2 linked regions of the Homo sapiens genome follow. The protein of the gene in region 1 interacts with the protein of each later gene in a pairwise test. Each region holds a gene or a part of one and is shown on either strand. Other genes may lie near its edges.

Evidence for each region. Proteins that work in one complex are often made in the same cells at the same time.
Region 2: the proteins of MYPOP (region 1) and KHDRBS3 interact in binary tests that used the Homo sapiens proteins (3 or more experiments, as listed by UniProt).

The regions. Positions count from the first base shown.
Region 1 is NC_000019.10:45,901,253-45,905,001, forward strand, and holds the start of MYPOP (myb-related transcription factor, partner of profilin), read right to left. Parts: upstream 1,362-3,749; 5' UTR 1,318-1,361; intron 574-1,317; 5' UTR 522-573; coding exon 23-521; intron 1-22. UniProt on the Homo sapiens protein: Transcriptional repressor; DNA-binding protein that specifically recognizes the core sequence 5'-YAAC[GT]G-3'. Dimerization with PFN1 reduces its DNA-binding capacity.
Region 2 is NC_000008.11:135,460,348-135,464,096, reverse strand, and holds part of KHDRBS3 (KH domain-containing, RNA-binding, signal transduction-associated protein 3), read right to left. Parts: intron 465-3,749; exon of another isoform or gene 209-464; coding exon of another isoform or gene 121-208; intron 1-120. UniProt on the Homo sapiens protein: RNA-binding protein that plays a role in the regulation of alternative splicing and influences mRNA splice site selection and exon inclusion. Binds preferentially to the 5'-[AU]UAAA-3' motif in vitro.

The sequences.
Region 1 (3,749 bases):
AGCCTACTCTGAAGACACTCACCTGCACGTCGGTCCTCCCGGCGGTCTTCCGACAACACGTAGCGCTGAGGGCAGGCGCTTGGGGGCGGCGGCTGTGAAGAGGGGGCCGCAGGGGGCTCCTCCGCCCCAGCACCTGCCCCCGGCGCCGCCACACCTGGCCCCAGGATGGCAAAAATGGTCTCCTCTTCCGCGGAGAAAGCGTCCTCCGCGGCGGGCCCGGCGCCCTGCGTGGAGTGCGGCACGCGAGCGAGCTTCTCCTTGGTGCGGCGCTTGAAGTCGTTCCAGCGCTTCTGCACCTCCTGGCCCGTGCGCTTCCAGCTGGTGATACCGTTGATCTTGGCGGCGATGCCGTCCCACACGCGCCGCCGCTCTGCCACGCTCACCCGACGGCTCTGCGCGCCGTAGAGCTGCGGGTAGTGGGCGCGCACCTCGCGGATCAGGATCTGGTTCTCTTCGAATGAGAAGCGCGGCTTGCGCAACCGGGTGGTTTCCTCCGCTTCGCCCGCCGCCGCCGAGGCCATGGCGCCCCCCGACGCCGCCGTCCTGCCGTCTGGCGCATGGGGGGCGCCGGCGCTGCGGGCAAAGGGCGCACGGGGCTGGCTGGGGTTCGGGGTCCCCCCGCCGCCGCCTCTCCCAGACCGCCGGGCCGAGAGCTCCTTAGTCCCCGGGGGCAGGAGTGGGGGCGGGGGGCGGGCGGGGGCGACGGGCACCCGGGTAAGTCGGAAGCGCCTAAGAGTAGCTGACACCGGCTGAGCGCTTGGCTCGGACTTCGCGCGGCGCGAAGTGCCACGCTGAAGAGTTGATAGAAATTGGGGGAGGGTCTGGAGGGATGGAAGGAAAGGAGGAAAAGTGCGAGGAGAGGAGGTGTCTGCAGGAGTTAGAGAATGGGGGCACGGGAGGATAGGAAATGGAGGGAGGATGGGGGTGCCTCGGGGGGGTCTTAGATGCATGAAGATAAGGAGATGCGGAAGGGGGGATGCAGCAAGAAGGGGGGAATCTGGAGCAGAGGAGGCGCTCTAGGGGCTCTAGGGGGCAACGGGGCGTCTGTAAGACCGATATGAGAAGGGCCCTTAGAGGGATGTCCAGGAATAATGGTGAGGTGGGAGCTCCTGTATCACTGGAAGAGCTGGAACGATCAAATATTAGGGATCAGGGTCTGCGAGGATTGTGGGGGCTCTGGGGATTGCCAGAAATTAAGGGGAGCTCTGGAAATAACGGGGGTCCCGTATCACAAGGAGACAACGGAGGCTACGGGGGACGGCAGGGAGAGCGAAGGTCGCGGAGGGTGGGGACCGAGTCGGGCCACGGGTCACTCACCGGCTCCGCCGCAGCCGCCGGTGGGTCAGGGCTCGGGCTTCTGCGGCCTGTTCCCACCCCCCGCCTCCCTCCCTCCCCTCTTTCGGCCCCGCCTCCGGCCGCCCCGCATGCCAAGGCGCAGGCGCGCCCAGGGCCAGTCGGCCCCAATGCCCTTACCGCCAGGGTTTCATTCCCACCTACCCCAGCACAGCGCAGGCGCAGAACTGCGCTCCGCCGAGCCCCACCAGCAGGCCGCAACTGCGCAGCCGCAACGTTAGCGCCGCGCGGGTACCCCAGCTTCCTGGGGCCACAACGGCGCACGCGCAAAAACTCCATCGCGCGCATGCGCGTGCCTCGGGTTGTACCCGGTACCGGGTCTCGGCGCAGGCGTTGCGAGCTTGGATGGGAGAGATGCTGGGAGCGCGCCAGTACCCAACCTTTCGGACAGTCTTCCAGCCCACCCTGCCCTCTAACCAAAGGGGAGGGAGACAGCGCTGAAGGGAAGCGCTTTGTCTCCTTGACAACTGTGTGGGTGGGGTGGAGGCGTGAGGAAACCGCTTTGCCTCCTGGCTTGCCCGCCCCTGCGCTGGGCCGCTCCAGAGCTTCCCACCTCGCACCCCTAGAGGCTGGGCGTCCTGGGGATGTCCCGCCCCGGGCGGATGCAGTAACCATAGCGACCCACAAGCCTTCCAGTCACGCCTTGGGGGCCCCTCTGTGCGCACCTTTACCTCGAGGAGCGGGGAAAATAAGAGGGAAGAGCTTCCTGGCTGGTAGGAAGGGAGATCCTGACGCCGGCACGACTTTAAGCAAGTGCATGGAGACAGGAATGAAGCCAGAACGCAGGTGGGGTGAGCCGCATGGCAGGATGATGGAGCTCAGTCCGGCTGAGAAGTGTGTTCGTTAGCATCCTGCAGGAGTCCTCAAGGTCATTCGACAATTGGTGCTTCATTCATCGACTCAATAAATATACATGAGCACTTACACAGTTCCTGGTACAATGAACATAAAAGCTAAAATCCGTAGCCTGGGCCGGGCGCGGTGGAGCTCACGCCTGTAATCCCAGCACTTTGGGAAGCCAAGGCGGGCGGATTACCTGAGGTCAGGGGTTCGAGACAAGCCTGGCCAACACAGTGAAACCCCATCTCTACTGAAAATACAAAAACTAGCTGGGCATGGTGGTGCATGCCTGTAATCCCAGCTACTCGGGAGGCTGAGGCACGAGAATCGCTTAACCCCGGGAGGCAGAGGTTGCAGTGAGCTGAGATTGCACCACTGCACTCCACCTGGACGACAGAGTGAGACTCCGTCTCAAAAAAAAAAAAAAAAAAAATACATGCCTGTAGTCCCAGCTACTTGGGAGGCTGAGGCGGGAGGATCGCTTGAGCCCAGGAGTTGCAGGCTGCAGTGAGCTATGATCAGGCCACTGCTCTCCAGCTTGGGCAACAGAGTAAGACCCTGTCTCAAAAGAAGAGAGAGAGAAAAAAAAGGCCCCTCTGCCTGCTGTGTGGAGGGTGGGTGGGAGGGAGCAAGACTACTGGGTAGAGTCAAAAAAAGTCATGAGCAGGGGTAAGAAAAGGATTAGGAAAGCGAGGGGAGACTAAACTAAGACAGGGACAGTGTCAAGGGGGACACGGAGAGACATTTGAGAGAATATATGGAAAGCATGGTGAGTGTCGCGCTAGCGAGGGAAAGGAAGATGTCTAGGTGAAACCCAAGTCTCTGGCCCAGGTTCTCACTTGGGGGTGTGGGGTCAGGTAAGATGTGGTGAATGTAAGGCTGGGTGCAGTGGCTCACGCCTGTAATCCCAACACTTTGGGAGGCTGAGACAGGTGGATCATCTGAGGTCAGGAGTTCGAGACCAGCCTGGCCAACATGGTGGAACCCTGTCTCTATTAAAAATTCAAAAAAAAAAAAAATAGCTGGGTGTTGTGCCATGTGCCTGTAATCCTAGCTACTCGGGAGGCTGAGGCAGGAGAATCTCTTGAGCCTAGGAGGCACAGATTGCAGGGAACCGAGATCTCACCACTGCACTCCAGCCTGGGCGACAGAGTGAGACTCTGTCTCAAAAAAATTAAAAAAAAGGCCGGGCGCAGTGGCTCATTCCTGTAATCCCAGCACTTTGGGAGGCCGAGGCAGGTGGATCACGAGGTCAGGAGATTGAGACCATCCTGACTAACATGGTGAAACCCCGTCTCTACTAAAAATACAAAAAATTAGCCGGGAGTGGTGGCAGGCGCCTGAAGTCCCAGCTACTCGGGAGGCTGAGGCAGGAGAATGGCATGAACCCGGGAGGCTGAGCTTGCAGTGAGCTGAGACTGCGCCACTGCATTCCAGCCTGGGGGACAGCGTGAGACTCTGCCTCAAAAAAAAATTAAATTAAAAAAATAAGAACAACAACAAAAAAAACACAATCAAAAAAAGATACGTGAGTGTAAAGTGACCAACAGGTTGAA
Region 2 (3,749 bases), on another chromosome or scaffold:
TTTCAGCCTGACTACTTATAAGCTGTGTACCTTGACTGGGCAAGTTACTTAGTGTTTTTGAGCCTTAGAGGCCTCATTTGAAAAAAATAAAGGAGGCACGCAGGGAATAAAACCTCCTACCTTGCAAGATCTTGCGGGGATGGGAGAGAATGCACAGAAAGCAGCTGGCACGGAAGAGCCTCAAATTGGTGGCTTTTATAATCATCATCCCCAACGCCAAGGAACACTCTCCTTCTATTGTTTTGGTAGAAGATATAAGTCATTCTATCTTCACTCAGCGGGACTGGTGACAACAGGCAAATGGGGCTTTTGATATCAAAGTTGCTGTTGGCACTCAATTTGCGGTTTCAATCGCTCCTCTGGCTTTCGGAGTTTCCCTTTGGCATCTGAAACTGCGGATAACTCTCTCAGGTAAGAAACCTTATTTGGCATGTGACTAGGGCTTCCAAAATTCTGTTTTTAATCTGTCATGAGAAATATCATTAGGAGTTTAGAGAAGGAGAGCAAATTGATGAGAGTGCAGTGATTTCATAAATTCCTTAAGAAAGAATAAAAGTAAATAAACATCTGATTCAAAGCAGATCTGACAACATCTTCTCATTATCTCCTAGAGAAGGATCCCTACTGTGCAACCACATTTAAAGAGCACTGGGATGCTTTTCTGCTTGTTCAACCCTGCATTTCACTCAGAACCTTCTTTCATTGATATGGGCAGAACTGTTGACTTCATCCCCACCTCCAATTCAGGTCCTCTAAAGCTGTAAGAAGCAAAGCTCTTTACTGACTGCTAAATTCCAAATATACTTTCTGATTCTGCTACCCTTAATGATAATTAACACGTAACACTGAAATGAAGACAGGAGTTCCCAAGGGCCCTGTGCTCAGACGTATGCTAGGTGCTGAAGATACAGAGGAAAGACCAGGCCCTGTCTTCCGAGGAACTCACTCTTTACCAAGAAAGACAAAGATCCAAACAAAGCAGTGTGATGAGGATCACACCGTAAGAGCACCAGGTGTTATGTGACACCAGAAAACAGGCAATCCAACCCATTTTGAAAAAGGTCAGAGGACTTATCTTAGGGCAGAAATGTGAAGAATGAAGTATGAAAATGGATGCTATATAATTTATCTTTCAATTCAGCACAGGCTAGAGGAAAAACAAACTGCACATAAAAAAGCCAGGGTTTTGATTCTCCTTCTATCATTCACTAATTATACCATCACAGGTTGGCCAGTAACTTAGCCCTTTAGACTCTCAGTGTTACTGAGAGTCAGTAGGACATGGTAAAAAGAACAATGGACCTGTAAAAGAACAAAGCTTGACCCTTCACTCTGACATTTTATTATAAGCATGTCACCATGGGCAAGTCACTTTAGCTGTCAGAATCTTGGTTTCTACAACTGAAAAACTAGGCTAATAACCTCTCCATCTCTGAGCTGTTACCAGTATCGAGATTACAAACATGACCCAGTACCAACAAGTGCCTCAAAAATGTCCACAAGCTGATTTATTAACAGTAAATCTAAGCCATCCAATCATTAAATATTTCAGCATAGTTGAAGGACTAAGATGTTCCTTAGGAAAGAGGGCATCTACAAACCGAAAATTCATTCTCAAACGCACACAGAGGAGAGCAGGAGCTTCTCACCAGTGCAGACTGTTTTTCCTCCCTACCCCTGGGACCCAACACAGAGAACCAGCATGGCAGGTTCTCTATAAGCCTGTTACTAATGTCCAATACCAAAACCCTGTAACTCACAATCACTGGGTCACTTTTAATCATAATACACTGTATAAAACTCAGAAATGGCATATCTAACACTGTGAGTGATCGCATTTTCTTAAAAAAAAAAAAAAACTGATAACACAAAGAAAAACAATAAAAAACTAAAAACTAAATAATCACATCCTCCTTTGGATGAAACAGAAAATCACAAACTATAGCATGAAGGCACCATACCTAAATACAGTTCTGCAGTTCTCATTCTTACTCTCTACTTTACAAGTCTGTGACATTCAAGCAAATCCGAAATGTTTTCCAAAAGGGGTCCCCAAAAATCAAGTTTTAAGCCCCTGGGTTTTGTGGATTACAAAGAGATGTACATAAAATAATAATCCTTCCTTAATATATTTTTATCCTCCATATTTATTCTAAGTAATGCTAAGAATTGTAATATTTGAGAAACTGATATAAAAACCATTTTGATATACAAACAAAAAACTTTTATCAACCTAGACACAAATCTGGACCACCTTAATCTTGAATCCTCAGCTCCACTTTCTCTTGTAATCAACGACAACTAAATGTAACTTGGCAGTGAGCCAGCCACCAATCCATACATTATATCAGATAATTAAAAATACAGTGTTATGTAATCTTATTTAATGGTTACTTGGCTTGTATTGAAAACCATCCAAACCAATATCAGAGACTTGGATTAAATTATAATGCATAAGACATTTCTAAAGATGTTTTTTAGTAAGAGTCAGCACATCCCCTACTAGCAAATATAAAACATGCAACACCACTTTCATCTGCAATTAACCTCTCCTTGGCAAGAATTGCAATGTCAATTCACCCTACAGGCACCAAGGCGGGGTCCGGAGTGGGATCCCAAAGCCTATTTTCTTTGACTGACTTTTAACATCAAATAAACATTAACCACTAATTTTGTTAGAGAAACAAATTCAGAGGCCAGGCACGGTGGCTCACACCTGTAATCCCAGCACTTTGGGAGGCTGAGGCAGGCAGATCACGAGGTCAGGAGTTCGAGACCAGCCTGGCCAACACAGTGAAACCCCGTCTCTACTAAAAATACAAAAATTAACCAGGCATGGTGGCGCACACCTGCAGTCCCAGCTACTCGGGAGGCTGAGGCGGGAGAATCGCGCAAACCCAGAAGGCAGAGGTTACGGTGAGCCTAGATTGTGTCACTGCACTCTAGCCTGGGCAACAGAGCCTGGGCAACTTCGTCTCAAAAAAATAAATAAATAAATATTCGGGAAACAAATTCATTTAGGAGGTGGAGGAGGAGAACCAGTTATTCTGGTAAAATGAAAATAAAATCAGCAATCAGTGCCCACGATGAAACACAAGTCTGGAAAAATATAAAAGCCAATGTATACCAGACAGGAGTATATCTCTTATTGTCATCCTAGCTCAAGAAAGAAAAAGAGTAATTCAGTTAGGAAGTTGATCAATCTTTACGAACACTGAATTTTTAAAGAACGACTACACCTCATCTATAAACTGCTTCATTATCATAATGCATTGATTATTAAACTAATACACTAGTCACAGGAGGGCTTTAATTCAAAACTGCCTCTTGGCCTCAGCATCAAAATCCTGGAAGATAAATCTACCGTGAATGTTTGCTTCTTCAAAGAAGGCAAGTGCAGACAGAAACTTTCTGTAAAAATCAGGATAAACTTCCTAAAGGATATATACTATTTCCTACACATTTAAGTCAGTTGGAAACAATCATACTAATTATATTGATTTCTGCAGGGTCTGAAGTTAGCAAGTGAGAAGTATTTCATTCCAACATTTTAGGAAGCCAAAATAAGAAAGAACAACCTCTTCAGAGACAGAAGACCTGAGATTTCAAATTAAATCTCAGTTGCCCAAAAGCTTAGATAGCTGGGATCCTCAGCTGCCTTCCTGAAAAGAGAAGACATGAACATCTGCCTTACCGGAATGCAAGTGTGAGGACAAAACTAGTGCCTTGGAAACTTTAAAATACTATGC